Homo sapiens: one gene and its partner. The protein of the gene in region 1 purifies or fractionates together with the protein of each later gene. This does not show direct contact. Each region holds a gene or a part of one and is shown in the gene's direction. Other genes may lie near its edges. The genes, in order: FTO and AMD1.

Region 1 (3,500 bases):
CCTGGATGTAGATGTTTTCCTCTCTCTTGCTGACCCCTCCGCCAGTTTTGTCTTGTGATGCCATTAACACATCTCTCCCTTTCTGACCTGGCTCCTGCCCATTGGTGTCCCAAGAAATCGTGAGAATAGTTAGCCCCCCGTCTCCCCAGCCTGTTGCTTTCTCGTGTAGTTGTTCACAGTAGTTGAGAAGTTGAAGAGCTTTTGCCTATTGAAGGTGCACTGAGAATAAACTCTTTCCTGCCACCAGAATTGCAGTGGTTCACGGCCTGCACTCATTCCCATGAATGCAGTTAATAGCCACAGAAATGTCACATTAAGCAAAGCAGCCAGGGTCTCATCGTGTTGAGACTCGAGTCTCTCAGACCTTGGATTCATTCCCTGGTGTCTTTGAGCCTCAGTTTCCTCATTGGTAAAAGAGAAGTGAAGCAGTGTCTCACAGGGTCATTACAGAGATTAAATGAAATAAATGAAATAACATAGACCAGGAGGGCGTGGTGTTTAAAAGTCACAGATGGGGCACCCTCGGGCCATCCAGCCCAGTGTTTTCTTTAGCCCCTATGATGTTCATTTTTTGTTATATCCCATTAGGTGCCCATATTTAAAAATTGGGAGATTTCACATAAAATTAAAAGGTCTGCATTTTCTTTTTTCTTTTCTTTTTTTTTTTTTTTGAGACACAGTCTCACTCTGTCACCAGGCTAGAGTGCAGTGGCACGATCTCAGCTCACTGCAACCTCTGCCTCCCAGGTTCAAGTAATTCTCCTGCCTCAGCCTCCCAAGTAGCTGGGACTACAGGCACGTGCCACCACGCCCAGCTAATTTTTGTATTTTTAGCAGAGATGGGGTTTCACCACATTGGCCAGGATGGTCTCGATCTCAACCTCGTGATCCACCCACCTCGGTCTCCCAAAGCGCTGGGATTACAGGCGTGAGCCACCGCGCCAAGCCAAGGTCTGCATTTTTCTTTAGAACTCAGAACACCCAATAGTCCTAGGCCCCCATCCTCGCATGGCAGCAAGCTAAATAAGCATCTTCCCACTGCGAGTTGGGGCATGACCCAGCCTATGGTTTGCCATACTCCCTCTTTTTCTCCGTTTTTTCATTAATTGTGAACCTGACCTGCATCACCCTTTCATGTCAGTGCTCTCCAAACCTGCTTGCTTGCACCCCTCTAGTCGAAATATTTTGTGCTTACCCCAATATATGTGTGTGACTATTGAACTCTATTCGTAGACTGCTTGTACTAATGTCATTTGCATCATAAAATATTCATATCCAATAAACATATTAAAAGGATGAGATAAGAAACCGAGAGATTTTGCTGTTTTTTTCCTTTTGCATGGATGAGCCAGCTTCACTGTCCTGGGTGGGGCCCAGGTGGAATTAGTTCTCAAAGTCCTCCAGGTGGAGTCAGGGAATGTGCAACAGGGTTGGAGAAATCACTACTTTAAGTGAATCCGAAAGGTGAGATCACATTTGCTCTAAAGAAATGGTGATCCCAGCACTTTGGGAGGCTGAGGCAGCAGATCACTGGAGGTCAGGAGTTCGAGACCAGCCTGGCCAACACGGTGAAACCCCGTCTCTACTGAAAACACAAAAATTAGCTGGGTGTGGTGGTGTGTGCCTGTAATCCCAGCTACTCGGGAGGCTGAGGCAGGCAAATCGCTTGGCCCGGGAGGCGGAGGTTGCAGTGAGCCGAGATCATGCCACTGCACTCCAGCCTGGGCCACGGAGCGAGAGAAGAAAGAAATGGTGACTTTCATTGATCATGTGTTTGAGGATTTCATGTGCTCTCCAGGGAGGTTTCAGGTGGGTAGAAGGAGGTGGGCAAGACCCAATAAAAAAGCAGCTGGTGCGGGCAATGACAATGAACTCGTATCCTGCAGGGTCAAAGGAAGGCTTGCTTCTGCTGTGAATTGGAGAAGGACTTTCCTGGAAGCACAGGCCCAGAAATCGCACCCTTCTCCCCATGTGTGCGGATAAGGGACCACTTCCATCAGCAGCAGCCCCCTCCTGCTTTCCTGCCAGTCCTCCCTGTGGTCCCAGGTCTCTTGAGAAAAGTGATCTAAGAGATCCCTTTGCAATGAGGTGCTACTGACTGCCCTACCTCCCTCCCTTCCTCCCATGAATGTTTCTTGGTGCTGACCACAGCCTCAGCAATGAGGCAAGCCTGGGGACCCAAGACAGATCTCTGCCTCCCAGGCTAGTGGATGCCCTGGGATATGTAGTCACCAAAATAGGAACTTACCCCATAGTGGGGAAATAGACAGTAAGCAGCAAATCAATAACAAGAGTGTTCCAGATGGTTGTAAGTGCCAGGAAGGGAACCAACTGGGAGAGGGACAAGAGGAGATGGTGACTGACCAAGGGGACCTTGATCAGGCTGTGGGGAAGGGAGGTGGTTGGGAAGAGCTTCCCAGGAAAGGGGACGGCGGGCCCAGGCAGGAGAGCCTTGGGAGGGGGTGCCCAAGGAAGGAAAAGGGCCCTGAGCCTGAAGCCGAGAAGACCAGGAGGGGAGAAGGGGAGATGTAGGGCAGAGCAGACGGGAGCCGCTCGGGTTTTATTCCACACACCCCAGGAAGCATGAGAGGGTTTCAAGCAGCAAGGGCATGGAAGTAACTTGGTGAGATATTTTTATGCATTAGATCATCGCTCTATCTGGATTCCAGAGGGTCTCTGAGAGAGCAAACAGCTTAATCCAAAGGAGCGGCTTTCCAACTGGGAATGTCCCCCTGGCTGGGTGAGATCTCAAGATGGCCTGCGGCCCCTCTAGATTGCCTGCCTACAGAGTTCACTCTAAACAGCCCCTCCCCTCCACACCCCAGCAGATCCATTCCTGACGCCCTCACTGGCAGGCTCCAGCCCCACAGAGCTTTCTAGACATAAAAGAGCAGGGTCATGGCATCATTGGTGACACAATTTTAGTAATAAGCTTCAAAACCCATCACTCCACTGAATCCAGGGATGCCAGAATTGAGAGTCCATAGGACCCGTTTAACGGATCCCACATTCAGTAGACGGTTTTTTGTATGCTTCGAGGGAAGGAAGGTATTTTCAAATGCAACTTCTTTTTTTTTTTTCTTGCTCTAGTTAGGGCTGATTTTACCACTGGGCAAATTGCATACATTTGGATCCATGCCACGCTAAAAACTGTTTATTTTGGAGATCTGTCAGAGGCAAGCACATGGAAGACAAGGGGATTCTGGTTTGAAAAGGCAATTCTCATCCAGACAGATTCAGATGGAGAGGAGCGGTGTGGATTAAAATGCGCCGAAGTGGTAATGCCGTTTATCCCGTTTGCCTTTGTTACTCTGTGATTAAATGGTATTTTTAATTAAGTTTCATTGGGAGCCATAGGTATCGCGGTGGTGAAATCAATTTGACAACCATAAAGGGGAGAGACGGCACAGGCGTGTTGTGATGATTGCGGCTGTAGGGAAAGCCGGGCAGCTTGCAGAGGATGGGTGGGAGGAGGGGAAGCCGGCTAAGAATGACTTCCT
Region 2 (4,023 bases), on another chromosome or scaffold:
GACATACAATTTGTGTGCTGTTATTAATATAGAACATCTATTTTTCTTTGGGATCATTTATCATGATCTCTGATTATATTTAATATTTTAGTATCTAGTCTTTAAGTGAAATTAGGGTATCTCAACCTCAGCATTCTTGACATTTTGATTCAGATAATTCACTGTTGTCAATGACTATCCTGTTAATTATACCGTGTGTAGCAGTGTCCCTGGCCTCTATCCACTGCATGCTGGCAACACCACCACCACCCCAGTTGTGATAAAAAATGTCTCCAAATGTTGCCACATGTCTTCTGGGTGGCAAAATTACTACAAGTTGAGAACCACTGAGTTAGATCAGAGAGGTGGCATTTAAGATGAGAAAAAGGAATTCAAATCAGGAAATACTCAATCTACATATTTCTTTGTGTTTTATAACCACCTAAGAATTGTGTGCTTCGGGCCAGGCATGGTGGTGCATGCCTGTAATCCCAAATCCCAGCACTTTGGGAGGCCGAGGCGGGTGGATTGCTTGAGGTCAGGAGTTCGAGACCAGCCTGGCCAGCATGGTGAAACACCTTCTCTACTAAAAATACAAAAAAAAAATTAGCCTGACATGGTGGCAGATGCCTGTAATCAGTCCCAACTACTCGGGAGGCTGGGGCAGGAGACTTGCTTGAACCTGGGAGGCGGAGTTTGCAGTGAGCTGATAGCATACCACTGCACTCCAGCCTAGGTGACAGAACAAGACTGCATCTCAAAAAAAAAAAAAATTGTGTGCTTGAATAGCTTTATAATAATTTCTAATGACTAGATCAGTATTACGTGAGCTGTAATGTGAACAAATCCCAAAATCATCTTGCTATCTTGCTTCTCTTGATTCTGCTTTATATCCATCAATTTGATTTATTGACTCTTTAAATAGCAAGGATTGCCAAATAGATCAGTTTTATAAATAGTTTATAATAGACTAGTGCTTCAAAGTCTCAGTTTGTAGTGTACTTGGGAGTGAAGCAGAGACAAGACCACTATCACTACTGAGCCTGATAAAACATTCTAGCTTAATACTATCTTTTCTATTTTTGACACACAGTCTCACTCTGTCGCCCAGGCTGGTGTGCAGTGGCACGATCTTGGCTCACTGCAACCTAATTTTAAAAATGGCTCTGTCGACTGTATAAAGCACTTTGTCTTTTCCATCATTAATTTGATCAGAAAGCAGACCACTGAAAACCTTTCCTCCAAAACAAGAGTCAGCAAACTTTCTGTAAAGGACTAGGGAGTAAATTTTAAATTTTGCAAGGCAGACAGTCTGTTGCAATTACTCAGCTCTGCCCTTATAGGGAGAAAATAACCATAGTCAATGTATAAATGAATGGGTGTGGCTAGGTTCCAGTAGAGCTTTATTTACAAAAGCAGGCCATTTTTTCCCACAGAAATGTGATAGAAATAATTTGTGCTGAAATTTTCAGCTGTTGCAGAGTTTTTCACCTCTTTTATGTACATGTATAGCATTGTATTGACTACTTTTTTCTTTCGTCTATTTTGCCCTCTGATTTATTTTTCTTGAGCTTAGTAGCTCTGGTAAATGCCTTTATCATCACTAGGTTGATAGACAGTTTAACTGTTTGTCCTAGGTTGCTTAAAGTAATTGCTTTCTTTTGATACTATGATTGAAAAATTCTGATTACCGGAGCATTACTATTAGTTGAGGAAAGGTTTGAATGGAGAATTTTATTAACTGATGATGAGTGAGTATAAGAGCATTTTGAAGCCAATGGGTTGGCACGTGCCTATAATCCTAGCACTTTGGGAAGCTGAGATGGGAGGATCTCATTAGCCCAGGAGTTTGAGACCAACCTGGGCAACATAGGGAGACCTCATCTCTACAAAACAATTAAAAATATATTAGTAAGGTGTAGTGATACATGCCCTGTGGTCCCAGCTACTTGGGAGGCTGAGGTGGGAGGATCTCTTTGAGCATGGGAGGCCAAGGCTGCAGTGAGCTGTGATTGTGCCATTGTTCTCCAGCCTGGGTGACAGTGAGACTGGCTCAGAAAACAAAAGGTTATTTCTCTGCCATTACAGAAGAAGCATGCTACACTGTCTTCTCTTATTAAAATGCAATTAATAAACCCTGGACAGAATGCATTGTTGAGCAGCTATCCAAGGACTCTGAGAAGTAAATTTTAGCAGGTGAAATGGAGAAGAAAGCCAGAACTTTAAATTCCACTGAACCAGCAGTGAATTTCCTGTTTTTTTTCCCCTGTGGTATCTCCTCGCTGATTTCTCCTGGGCTTGCCAGAAACCCAGAACTGAAAAGTAGGGGCAGGCAAAAATAGTTCCAAGAAAGGCTCTCTAGTTCTCCTCTGCAAAGAAAGAATGAGAGGCCCCTTTGAATCAGAGTGGAAGAAATCTCTTTTTTGCTTTTGTTTTGTTCTATTCTGCCCCAATCCTCTTGTAGGCCTTTAGCAGCTGTGGCAGTTAGGCAGATGTCTAAAACAACGAGAGAAGGGAATCATTTTTTGTTTGTTGTTTGTTTTTGAGACAGAGTCTTGCTCTGTAGCCAGGGCTGGAGTGCAGTGACACGATCTCGGCTCACTGCAAGCTCCGCCTTCCGGGTTCATGCCATTCTCCCGCCGCAGCCACCCAAGTAGCTGGGACTACAGGTGCCCGCCACCATGCCCAGCTAATTTTTTTTTTTTTTATTTTTAGTAGAGACGGGGTTTCACCTTGTTAGCCAGGATGGTCTTGATCTCCTGACCTTGTGATCCTCCTGCCTCCCAGAGTGCTGGGATTACAGGCGTGAGCCACTGCGCCCGGCCAAAGCCCTATTTTTATAGGTAGTGGATGAAGAAGAGTCCTTCCCCTATCCCCTATGTGAGTCAGGCATTGTCAGAGAGATTATGGAAGGTTGAAGAAAGTAAACCTATAAAGTTTTATATGAACACTCCTTAGCCATTTTGCATGGATCTGACCCTAAACAGCACATCAGAGGCTTTGAAAACTAGAATACACAATAGACTGCCTCTCCAGGGCCAGCCTGGCCATTGGGTGGCAAATAAGTGGGGCAGATGCAAATAACATAGCAAAGGAGTTCATAACAAACCTGACACTGGAACCATAACACAACCTAGAAACATTGAGTAAAAACTTGAAGCCTAAACCAAACCAGATTGTCTGCTGAAAGTTTTTAAAAATCAAGACCTAGAATGATGTAACATGTCAAAATATCCAGGATGCCATCCTAAATTAGTCAACATACTCAAAACCAGGAAAATCTTAACATCTCAAAGGAAAAGACAGCAGACACCAACCTCAAGGTGACATGGACCAAGACTTTAAAGTATCTGTGCTACAAGTTGTAAGGGTGAATACTTTGTTTTAAGAGAGGGTCTTGCTCTGTTACCCTGGCTGGAGTGTAGCGGTGTGATCATGGTTCACTGCACCCTCCATCTCCTGGGCTCAAGCAAACTTCCCACATCAGCCTACCGAGTAGCTGGGACTACAGACCTGCACCACCACTCCCAGCTGCCTTTTTTCTTTTTAAGAGACTGGCTATTGCTATGTTGCCCAGGCTGGTCTTGAACTTCTGGTCTCGTGATCCTTCCTTCTTGGCCTCTGAACCACAGTGCCTGGCCACAACAGCCTTTAAAAAAAGAGAAAACAAAAATAAGAAAGGAAAAGACTGTTACACTGTTTAGTTCAGCCATGGAACGTGTTTAAAAGTCTTAATAGAAATGGTGAATATAACTGAGAAAGGGAGGGTGGGATTTGTTAGTGCGTCCAGTGGGTAAAAAGGAGTATGTGCAAGAATAAGTTATAGTGGGAAGTCAGTAGGTGATGACTTAAGCAGGTAGCATTATTGATGGACCTGAATTAGATAAGCTCTTTAAAAATCTGAAATTGTAATGTTTCTAATACTTAAATCATAGTGGATATTTTTATTTACCTTCATATTCAGGAATGGGAGTCTTAATAGTAGATAATTTTTGCAAGGATTTTGTAAATTTATCTTAGTCAAGTGAAGCAGGATTTCATTCC

What was found.
Region 2: the proteins of FTO (region 1) and AMD1 purify together in Homo sapiens (affinity purification with western blotting, with the first as the bait; one study listed by BioGRID). This does not show direct contact.

Annotation. Positions count from the first base shown.
Region 1 is NC_000016.10:54,113,156-54,116,655, forward strand, and holds part of FTO (alpha-ketoglutarate-dependent dioxygenase FTO), read left to right. Parts: 3' UTR 1-3,500.
Region 2 is NC_000006.12:110,881,087-110,885,109, forward strand, and holds part of AMD1 (S-adenosylmethionine decarboxylase proenzyme), read left to right. Parts: intron 1-4,023.